Linked DNA regions of Homo sapiens: region 2 is linked to region 1. Evidence: fine-mapped expression QTL. A gene starts in region 1. The other region holds a variant in brackets. All regions are shown on one strand. Distances are between the middles of the regions. Region 1 holds the start of IFT27 (intraflagellar transport 27). Region 2 holds the start of LOC124905112 (a long non-coding RNA gene).

What was found. PIP is the estimated chance that this variant, and not a neighbour inherited with it, causes the effect.
Region 2: its variant is the best candidate, but not a certain one, in a credible set for the expression of IFT27 in whole blood (INTERVAL, PIP 0.65).

Annotation. Positions count from the first base shown.
Region 1 is chr22:36,773,202-36,778,568 of GRCh38, forward strand. IFT27 (intraflagellar transport 27) reads right to left here and starts at 2,918. Exons shown (of 7, transcript NM_001177701.3): 1 at 2,473-2,918. The coding sequence starts at 2,506. RefSeq lists silencers at 2,480-2,539, 2,670-2,719 and enhancers at 2,618-3,181, 2,960-3,219, 3,747-4,310.
Region 2 is chr22:36,743,348-36,748,714 of GRCh38, forward strand. The region is part of intron 2 of CACNG2-DT (CACNG2 divergent transcript); the gene reads left to right. It overlaps LOC124905112 (a long non-coding RNA gene), which reads right to left and starts at 2,994. Exons shown (of 3, transcript XR_007068090.1): 1 at 2,832-2,994; 2 at 1,465-2,575; 3 at 828-1,254. The variant T/TAA (reference allele first, on the strand shown) is at 3,022.

The DNA of each region.
Region 1 (5,367 bases):
TACAAAAATTAACTGGGCATGGTGGTGTGTGCCTGTATCCCCGGCTGCTCGGGAGGCTGAGGCAGGGAATCATTTAAACCCAGGAGGTGGAAGTTGCAGTGAGCTAAGGTTGTGCACCACTGCACTCCAGCCTGGGAGACAGAGTGAAATTACGCCTCAAAAAAAAAGGTCCGGGCACAGTGACTCACGCCTGTAATCCCAGCACTTTGGGAGGCCGAGGCGGGCAGATCACCTGACGTCAGGAGTTCAAGACCAGCCTGGCTAACATGGTGAAACCCAGTCTCCACTAAAAAATACAAAAAATTAGCTGGGTATGGTGGTGGGCGCCTGTAATCCCAGCTACTTGGGAGGCTGAGGCAGAAGAATCGCTTGAACCCAGGAGGTGGAGGTTGCAGTGAGCTGAGATTGTGCCATTGCACTCCAGCTTAGGCAATGAGAGTGAAACTCCGTCTCAAAAAAAAAAAAAAAAAAAATAGAAGGACACAGAGGAGCACTACTTGAGGACAGAGTAGCTTGGGCTAAAGCCCTGGAAATCAGATTGGGACCCAGGGTCTGGATCATACAGCTCTGCCACTTCCAGCTCTGTGACCCATGGCAAATGTTCTCATTTTTCTGGGCCTCAGTTGCCTCATCTGTAAATGAGGATGGCAATAATGCCAATCCCACAGGGTTGCTATGAGGATTCAATGAGACCACCTGTATTGAGGGTCTAGCAGAGCTGATGCACCCAAAGCGCCAGTAAGTTAGCTCCATGATGAAAACCGAATTTAAAAAGAACCCAGAGAGAAGCCCATTTAAAAAAAAAAGTAACTTCAGAAAATAATGTTCCCACCTTATCCATAAGGAAATTAAAGCTCAAAAAGTGCTTCGTCCAAGATGACACAGCCAATAAGAGGAACAGGCAAAATTACTTTTGTTACACAACACTGCCTCCTCTGGTGCTCTGGAAACTGGAGATTCTCCTGAGAACCATTAATTTATTTTGCTCCAGTATGATTCAGTTACTACTGTCAGTCATCTTTCTGTGTGACCCTTTTATTTTCAAATTATAAAAGCCATTAAAAATATTATCATTTATTCTCAGTCTGGAAGAGGGGAATTTTTTAAAACAGGAATCTCTTTTTCTCTATATAATTTCTCACCACTTCTTTCCTGAGCTGGCCAGGGAAGCCTGGAAAGGTCACAGGTTTCAACAGAAACACGAGTTAAGAGTTTTGGAGTTGGCCAGATCTAGGGGCTGAAATCCTGCATAGGGCCTTCACTAGGGGTTGACCTTGGCTGACATCTCTCAGTGCCTCAGTAAGATCAGAACAATCCAGTACCTGGCCGGGCGCAGTGGCTCATGCCTGTAATCCCAGCACTTTGGGAGGCCGAGGTGGGTGGATCACCTGAAGTCAGGAGTTCGAGACCAGTCTGGCCAACATGGTGAAACCCCAGCTCTATTAAAAATACAAAAAAAAATTAGCCGGGCATGGTGGCTTGCGCCTGTAATCCCAGCTACTTGGGAGGCTGAGGCAGGGGAATTGCTTGAACCAGGGAGGTGGAGGTTGCAGTGAGCCGAGATTGCGCCACTGCCCTCCAGCCTGGGCAACAGCGTGAGACTCCGTCTCAAAAAAAAAAAAAAAAAAGAAAAACAATCCAGTACCTAGCCCAGTGTGCTATGGTGAGACGATTACATGAAATATGTGTGCTTCACATGCAGTAAGCACTCAGTAACATGCATATGTGTTTCGCAGTCTATAATCCAAAATATTGTTTTTCTAAATGTGCAGACTGATACAAGGGGTACACTACAAATGTGCATGCCACATATTCACATATTCATCCATTCTAAAAGTATTTATTGAGTACCTACTATGTTCCAGGCATTGTTCTGGGTGCTTGGGATGTATCAGTCAACAAAACAAAGATTCCTGCCTTTGGGAGACTCAACATTTATGCCCTTCTTGGAGTGGGGCAGCACAGTAACTTTGGGTCTTAAAGACAACACACAAGTGCCTTTTGCAAACTCTGGTCACTACACTCAGGTCACCGTTATCAGAGGGGGTGAGGTCGGGGGAAAAATCCCATAGTAAAGACTACCAAAGTCACTGATGCCTAACTTTGGGGTACAGTATATGTTTAGCTGAAGCACTCAAGGTTTGCTTAAGCTTTGTTTGTTTTGTTTTGTTTTAACAAGTCTGCTTCTCCAGAGTTGTAACTAGTGATTTTTTAACGAGTCACCTCAACTGGTGAAGGTGGTCTCAGAGTATGTGACAGGGAGCAGGGGGAAATCCACTGGAGCTGCGAAGTGCCCTGGAAGATCATTCTTCCACGCCTAACGTAATTTACTGTATCAGTAATTGCAGTAACTCGCCTTTGGGAGAGAGAAAGGAAAAGGTAGGCAATTTAGGTGAACAAAAGCTCTGGATGAATTATGAAGGCTCTGGACTCCAGAGACCACCGTATTCAAGCGCAAGTTTTCAGACTCACCTGCCAGGATGCATTTGGCTGCCAGCTTCACCATGGTAACCAACACTCCCGCGAGCCGTACCCAGAGGACAAGAGCGGCTGCTAGAGACGCGAGTGGGTGGGCTTCGGGCCCTGGGCTGGCCTGGGACGGGAAGGTGGGGAGGGGAGGGCTGATCTCAAGGGTCAGTGGCCGCGACGGGACTGGGGATGACCGAGCCCGGCCCTTCTGGGCCGGGGGCGGATATCGGGCGCTGGGGGCGGGTGGGCAGGGGAGGGCTCCAGGTGGGCCCGGCTCGAGGCCTGACACGGCAGTCTGAAAAGGTGCAAGCGAGCGGACACGGCCTGTGCTCCCCGCCCAGCCCCTCAGCACAGCCCTACCCAGAGGGTTCAAGGAAGGACGATCCGGCTCTCCTCCGATCACAAGTACCGGGCCGGATGCACTCTCCAAGCAACCATAGCCCACCTGCCCCGCCTCCTCCTCCTCCTCGCTGACCCTCGATTGGTTGCCGCCAAAAGCTCCCACCCTCAAGGTCTCACAAAAATCCAATGGGAGTAGAGAGCTGGGATAACAGCCTTTTCTTGAGATGCAATTCGTAGAGTTATCAGTTCTTCAAGTTCAGTCTGCTTGACGAGTGGTTGTAATTGACGTCAACCAGCTTTATATCCCGCCCCCGCTGCGCCTGAGAGTCCCGAGATAAAGAAGCCTCCACGTCAAGCAGTCAGAAGCGGTGACAAGAGAAGCTTTCTGATTGGTCAGAGTCTGGCTTGACCCATCTTCGGGAGGAATAGGGATTCGCCACTCCCGCTGTCCTTCTAGAAGTGGGTTCGCCTACAATGGGGCAGGTTGGGCTCTAGGCGGTCTGGAGCGGCGCCTGCGCAGTGGGCCAGGCCGCCGCTGTAGAGGTCGTTTTGACTTGCTCTGACTTCGCGCGGTTCTCGCGGCTTCCCCGGTTCCCGGGTTCTGCACAGCGCGGCTATTAAAGTGCATGGAGAAGTGCAGTCCTTGCCCCGCATCCCGCAGGGAAATCTCATTTTAAAAGCTCAAAGATGTAATGAGCGTTAAAATCTAAAATATGAAGGTGTTTTATTAAAGTGATGTTTGTGAACAAAGGGAGAACAAATACACTTTGATGGGGCTAAGCGGTGAGACTCGGAAACTTGAAGTCGTACTTTGCTCTTAGTCCATTTACTCTCTGCAAAAGGAGAATGCATCACTAACCTCGTTTGCCCGTCACCCAGGGAGGCTCTCTGTACGCGTTTACTGGGTTGGGGGTGCCTCTTGCACGTGGTTAGGGGGTCAGAGACCTAAATCCCTGGCCTGGACAAGTCACCTCATCCCTCAGCCTCAGGATGGGCCTAGGAGAACCCGCCTTGTGGGGTGGTTGTGGAGATGGAAGGAGAGAAACGTATGAGTGCCTGGGAGATAGTAGGTGCACACGTGATTGTGGGGTGGATGGGAGAGCGGAAGCTTATCTGGACAGATTTGGTTTATCATCACTGTCACTGGTTGGCCGAATGTACCCCTTGTTCTCACTTTCTCAGGGCCCCTGGGATTCTGATGGCTGATGCTGAAGGGAAGAGCAGCCCCTCAGCAAAGGTGCCTGTGCGAAAGTTCCACATTCCCTCCAGACACCTAGAACATTCCACCTCTCCGCCACTCTGCATCTCAGAGTGGCTGCCAGCCTTGTGTGGGGGAATAAACACACACACTCTATGAATGGCTGATGGTTTCAGCCCCGAATCCAGAGTAAATGCAAGTTGTCTGAGATGTTCTTTCCTTGGGATTCATTCCTGGCGCTACGGTAAAGGTCTGTTTCTCCTTCATTTCTCGTAACTGCTTTTCTTCTTTGGTGACATCACGTGAGTCTGTCTCAGACATCCAGGTCTGAGTGAGCAAAAAGCCTCTTTCTGGTCTTCTGCCTTCCTCTTGCCGGCTCCCCTCCAGGCCAACCTGTTCACCATGAGTGACCCTGTTAATCCCTTAAAGGACCCCATTTGGTGAGTCACCCTCCCGAGGCAGCTCCACGTAGCTAAGACACAGACACACATCAGGGCAGCCTCCGAAGCCTTGGTTCCTTCATTTTGCGAGGTGGGTAATGACAGAGCCGGAGCATAGCCATCTTGGACAAGCACTGCCATTTTAAAGTTCTCCTTGATCAAAAACGGCCTAAATTCAACCCAAAGGGCATCAGCCTAATGGCTAATGTCAGAATGACCATAAACCACAAGTGACATCTCCAATCAGAAACATTCCAACCCTAAGATAAACCCACCCCCCGACCAGAGACATGCAGCCCCAAGATAACCTCCCCTCTGGTCAGAGAGATGTCAGCCCCAACATAACCCACCCTCAGACCGGAGACATTCCAACCCCACAGTAAACTTCTCCTCCACACAGAAACATTCCAAGCCTGTGGTAAGCTCTCTTGCCCTAAACCCTTAAATACTCTTAGTCTGTAAGAGAGAGCACTCCTGACTGAAATTGGCCAGAAGCCCCTCTCAGGTTTATGCTCCAAAATAAACCTGTATTTAACTGTTGAGCCACTTTTCATGTTTCTTGCCTCTTTCTTTAACTCTTGCAGGTAATAATCACACCTCCCTCCCAGGGCTGTTCTCTGTTCCCCACCCACTGTCTCCCTTTTGTTGCTGCTACTCTGTGTGATTTTAGTCAGCATTATCATAAGAGCATTGTAGAACTTTCTAGAGAGATGGTAAACACTTGTATGGTGAATTCTGTCCCCCTTCACCTCATGGACCCAAGGGCCTTCTATACATTTCTGTGACTGAAGGTAAGCTGAATGAGAGTCACTAGGTTTAAGGTGGTCAGAGAATTTTGGAGCCATGGGGGCTCCTGAGCAATTCGAGTTATCCCATTTCTGAGCAGCTCTAATAGTCACAGCTGGCCTATGTTGACCA
Region 2 (5,367 bases), 30 kb before region 1:
ATCCCTGTCTCACTTCTCCACCCCTCCATGCTACTTTTGGGGCAACCTCCAAGAGAAACTACTTGTCCCTGAACACTTATCTCAGGGTCTGTCTTTGGAGGAAACAAAACTAAGAAACTATTAAGTATCCCATTTGCTGGATGAAGGAACTGAGGCGCAAAGAAGTTAACACAGAGTAGCCAGGAAAAACAAAACTGAAGGAAGGTCTTTGAAATGAAAGTGCCAAAAATGCGTGTGTGTGTGTGTGTGTGTGTGTGACACAGACAGCCAGGAGATGGCGGTGGGGGTAGTGAGGCGAGATGAGCCTGGTGAGGTGCGTGCACACCAGGGCAAGGATTTGGGTCACTAACTAGGGGCACGGGAGGCCTCTGAAGGCTTTAGACAGGCAGGGTGACATGTTATGACGTGAGAACACAGGCACCCTGGAGACCTAGGCGAACCTGGATTAAAAGGGTCCAAGCAGATGTAAGGAGGTGATTAGGAGGCTTCGGTGGTCATTCTAGGGGGCCCTGGGGACCTGCCGGGCAGGGGCCACTGAGCTCTTCGTGATCTCCAGAGCCCTGGGGTCCACATGCAGACCAGGACACAGTGTGTGTCCTAAGGAGGACATGCACTGCCTGCCTCTGTCCCTCCCCTCCCCAAACCCCTTCCCCTTCCTCTTAGGTCATGGAGACCCTCCATACTCCCACCTCAGGGTCTCTGGCCTGGGGACAGTGTGGGCTGGGGAGCCAGGCACCCCTGCAGCCTGGCCAGGCTGGGAGCTGCAGCAAGAAGGCCAGCCAGACCTCCTGACCAGCAGCCGGCCAGGCCCCAGAGGCGAGCACGTGTCTGGGCGGGTGCCACTGTCTGCCCCAGTGCCCTGAGCTCGCCGCACTGCCGAGCAGATGGCCTTGTAAGTGAGTGCGATCAGAACAGGGTCAGGAGGGTCTGCTGGTCCTACCTTCTCCTCCACCTCTGCTGGGTTCCACTGCCTTGGCCGCTGTCCTGGAGGTGTTGACCAGCTTGGCTGGCCAGGGGCGCCGTGCAGTCAGGTGTGGCAAACTGTGGTGTGATATGACCCAGGCGTCCAGTCATGCAGGGTGCAGGGGACACGGATCCTGGGGGCTCTGGTGAAGCTGAGGCAGGACTGGAGTGGGGGAAAGTGGTAGGAGAGTGGCAAGGGGCATTGGCCACCCTGCAGTCACCTCGGGGAGCTCCTGACTGCACGTTGAGCCCCTGAGTGTGTGGCTTGAGGTGTCGGCAGGACTGGTGTCCCTAGGGAGGAGCAGAAGGGAACTGGAATTTGCTGGGGGCTTACTATGTGCCTGGTCTTCAGTAGCTGCTTCCTTGGGTTATTACTGGCCCCTTGCCCCACTTCAGAAGCCCTCCCTCCACCCTTCTTGGGGGACTTTTTCTCCAACCCTCCAGGCTAGGGGTTCCAGCTCCCCCGGTTCACAGTGTTTATGACCTGGGTCTTCCTTTTACCCTGGGACAGGCCCTGAAGGACAGCAGTTTCTCTGCAGGCCTTTCCTCCAGCATCTCCAGCCACAGGGTCCTTCCCGGGCACCTGCTTGTCTGCTTGAGCTGCTTCTTTGTGAGCAAATGAATAAAGGTTCTATGCGAGTCCCACTCCCTGCATGCGAGAGTAATCAGCTTCACCTTTCTGAGCCTCAGCTTCCTCATCTGTAAAATGGGCAAAATCACTCCCACCGGCCGGGTGCGGTGGCTCACACCTGTAATCCCAGTACTTTGGGAGGCCGAGGCAGGCGGATCACCTGAAGTCAGGAGTTCGAGACCCTAACACGGTGAAACCCCGTCTCTACTAAAAGTACAAAAATTAGCCGGGCGCAGTGGCATGTGCCTGTAGTCCCAGCTACTCAGGAAGTTAAGGCAGGAGAATCACTTGAACCCAGGAGGTAGAGGTTGTAGTGAGCGGAGATCGTGCCACTGCACTCCAGCCTGGGCGACAGAGCAAGACTCTGTCTAAAAAAAAAACACACACACACACACACAAAACAAAAAACAAATCACTCCCACCTTGAAAGGTTGTTGCAAGGATTAAAGAAGATGAAGGAGGTGGAAGCCTGGCACAGAGGAAGTGCTGATCAGAGGCGCACTGCCAGCCATGTGGCTGGGGCAAGTCTCTGCACCTCTCTGAGCCTCCCTGCCTCAGCCCTAAAGTAGCCCTGCCCTGCACAAGGAAGGGAGGGAGAGAAGGGAAGCTGACATAGTGTGTGAGCTGCGAGGGTTGTGCACTGGGACAGCTTGGGCCTGTATCTTCCCATCCATGTGATTTGAGGTTTGGGTAGGTGAAGGCATCTCCCTGCTCCACCCAGCACTGGCAGTCCAGGGATCTTGGAGCCCCCCTGACCCACGTGGCTCTCCCTCCCTCCATTACTCACCTTTCTTTGGGCCTTTGCACTGCTTTTGCAACCCGGTAGGGGCTGGTGCCGGGCCCGTCTTGCATGAGGCCCCAAGGCTGCCCATGCTGTGTGGGGGAGGAGTGGGATCCCTACTTTACCTCAAGGCTCAGCCCTGGGCAACACCGCCATATCCTGGTGTCTGCCACTCTCTCGGGAGTTGGGAGTCCCAGAGGCTGCAAGAGAAGGGAACATGTGGCAACTCCAGAAGGGTGAGGACAGAGAAGGGGGCTCTGCTGAGAGCTCCTGCTGCAGGCTGGGGACTGCTGTAGCCACCCCCTCTGAAATGCAGTGAGAACAGCTGCCCTGGCCAGGCCCCCACTATGTGCTCGGCGTGCTCCTACGGCACGTCTCACCTTCACAGTGGCCCAGCAAGGGAGTAACAACCATCCCATTTTACAGATGGGGAAGCTGAGGTTCCAATAGACTCACCCAAGGTAATTCCCAAGTGTGTCTGGCTGCTTCCACCATTCCACGGGCTGCTGTTATCATAGAATCAATGTCAAGCTGGGCGCAGTGGCATGCACCTGTGATCTCAGCTACTCGGGAGGCTGAGGCAGGAGGACTGCTTGAGGTCAGGCGCTCAAGATCAGCCTGGGCAATATAGCGAGACTTGGTCTCT[T/TAA]AAAAAAAAAAAGCAAAAGAGAAAGAGAGAGAATCACTGGTCTTTTCTAACCTACCATTTTCCAGAGGGAGTGAGCCCCCAGGGAGTGGCTGGGTCATAACAACAGCAATGGTGGAGGGAGGACTCCCTCCTCCACCCCTCCCTTTTGGTCTTCTGCAGCTGTTTATGGACGTTCTCCTTGTGCAGGCGTTGTTCCCATCCTGAGTTCCAATCCGACTCTGGCTCACACCACATGCCTCCTAGGAGTGCCCATCACACGCCGGCCAAGGCGTGTGTGAGGTCCTCCCTGAAGGGTGGTGGACAGAGGTTCAAGCTAAAACACAGGTCTATCAGCCCAGCCGAGGAGGCCCTGGAGAGGCTGCTGGGGGGTCAGACAGCACAGGTTCCCCTCACCCCCCGCCCCAGGCCAGTCCTGCACCTCGCTGAGCCTTGGTGCTCTGTAACTGTCTCATGAGTGAAGGCATGAATGAGGGAAACCGTGAGGACACCCAATCCCTTAACTCCAACTCCAAAATTACATCACCCCCTCCCTCAACCAACACCCTTCAGCGGCCTCCCCCTGCACATCAGGTAACTCCCAAGCTCTGGCTGGGCTTCTGATGCCTCTTCTTATTTATTTTATTAGTTTATTTTATTTATTTTATTTTTTGAGATGGAGTCTTACCCTGTCACCCAGGCTGGACTGCAGTGGCGTAATTCCGGCTCACTGCAACCTCCACCTCCCAGGTTCAAGCAATTCTCCTGCCTCAGCTTCCCAAGTAGCTAGGATTACAGACGCCCGCCACCGCGCCCAACTAATTTTTGTGTTTTTAGTAGAGTTGGAGTTTCACCATGTTGGCCAAGTTGGTCTTGAACTCTTGACCTCCAGTGATCCACCCGCCTCAGCCTCCCAAAGTGCTGGGATTACAGGTGTGAGCCACTGCGCTCGGCTGGAAACTCTTTTCCCCGTGCTCCCTTCACTCAGTGCCCAGGAGTTCTGGCCTTTTGTGGGCCAACCTCCTCTGCCGCAGGACCCTCAAACATGCTATTTCCTCTGGCTAATGTACAACTCCCCGTTCACTGCCTGACTCCTGCTCCTTCATGTCTCCACAGAGAGGCTGCTGCTGGACACCTCCTCCCTGCTAAGACTCCTTTGGAGTCTTGTATAGAGGGTTCTGTTCTTTTCTTTCCAGTGATTTTTACAACCTGTGGTTTTCTACGGGATTGCAAACTGACTTATTGTCTCTCTCCCTCACCAGCTTGTGTGCTCCATGGAGCAAGGAGTAGGAGGCTCATCTGCCCTGTCCAGCTCTTAAGCCCCTGCACCTACAGCGGGGCCTGGCTGGTGGCTGGTGGTCAAAAAGCCAGGGCCTGTTGAGACACAGGGGCTCTGTGTCGAGGCTGCTCCTTAAACGCTTCTTGCCTGCACGCTGTGCGTGGAAACCCAAAGAAGTGAGAGACGCGAGGACTCCAGGGATTGCTAACCCACTAGTGTCATGCCAGAGGCCCCAAGGCAAAGGCGCTCTCAGCCAGGGCAAGAGACCGACTGGGCTCAGGCCTCCTAGCCCCTGCTGGGCCTCTCTCCAGTCCTCTCTGGGGCCATGGCAAGCCACTCTTCCCAGGGGTCACTCACCGGGGACCCAGGCCTCCTAGTCCCAGAGCTCCTTTGGACGAAGGGTGGAGGGCAGCAGACTCCACCCCTGGGATTATCCAGGATAGGGTCACAACAGCAGCGGCAACAACCGAAACAATAGGGTGAGCGGCGAGTGTCCCACTCAGCAGGGGCTGGGGGGTCTGCAGCTATCGCCAGGCTGTGAACCCTCAGCAAACATCTGAAGTAGGTGATGTTAGGGCCCAGAGAGGCGAAGTGACTTGTCCAAGGCCACTCAGTGAGGTAGAGCTGAGCAAAGACTCGCACCCAGAGGCTGTGTGATTCCAAAGCCTTGGGTGCCGCGTGCAGGTGAAACCGCCCCACATTGCTTCTCGACCGTCACCACCTTCTGCCCCTGAGATCAGCAAGCACCTGCAGGGAGGTGGTTGGGAAGGGCCTGACCTTCCTCTGGAGGTTTCCTGAGATTCACAGAGTCTGACGGTAGCTGTGACATCGCTAGGAGCCTGCACTGGGGAACGCAGGTCATGGGCCCATTGCGTCCTCAGCCGTAACGTAAAACAGTTGCCTTGGCTTCCTGGGGTGGCTGTGAAGGTTGAGTGAGAGGAAACACGCTGGAAGAGGCTTTGGGGGAGATTCTGGGAGCACAGTGTGGCTCACAGGGGTTCAAGCCCCTGCTTGTACCTTGCATTCAGCTTGCCCCTGGGCAAGGTTGCTGCTGTTGGAATCTACAATGAGGCAATGAGCCAGGAGGCAAA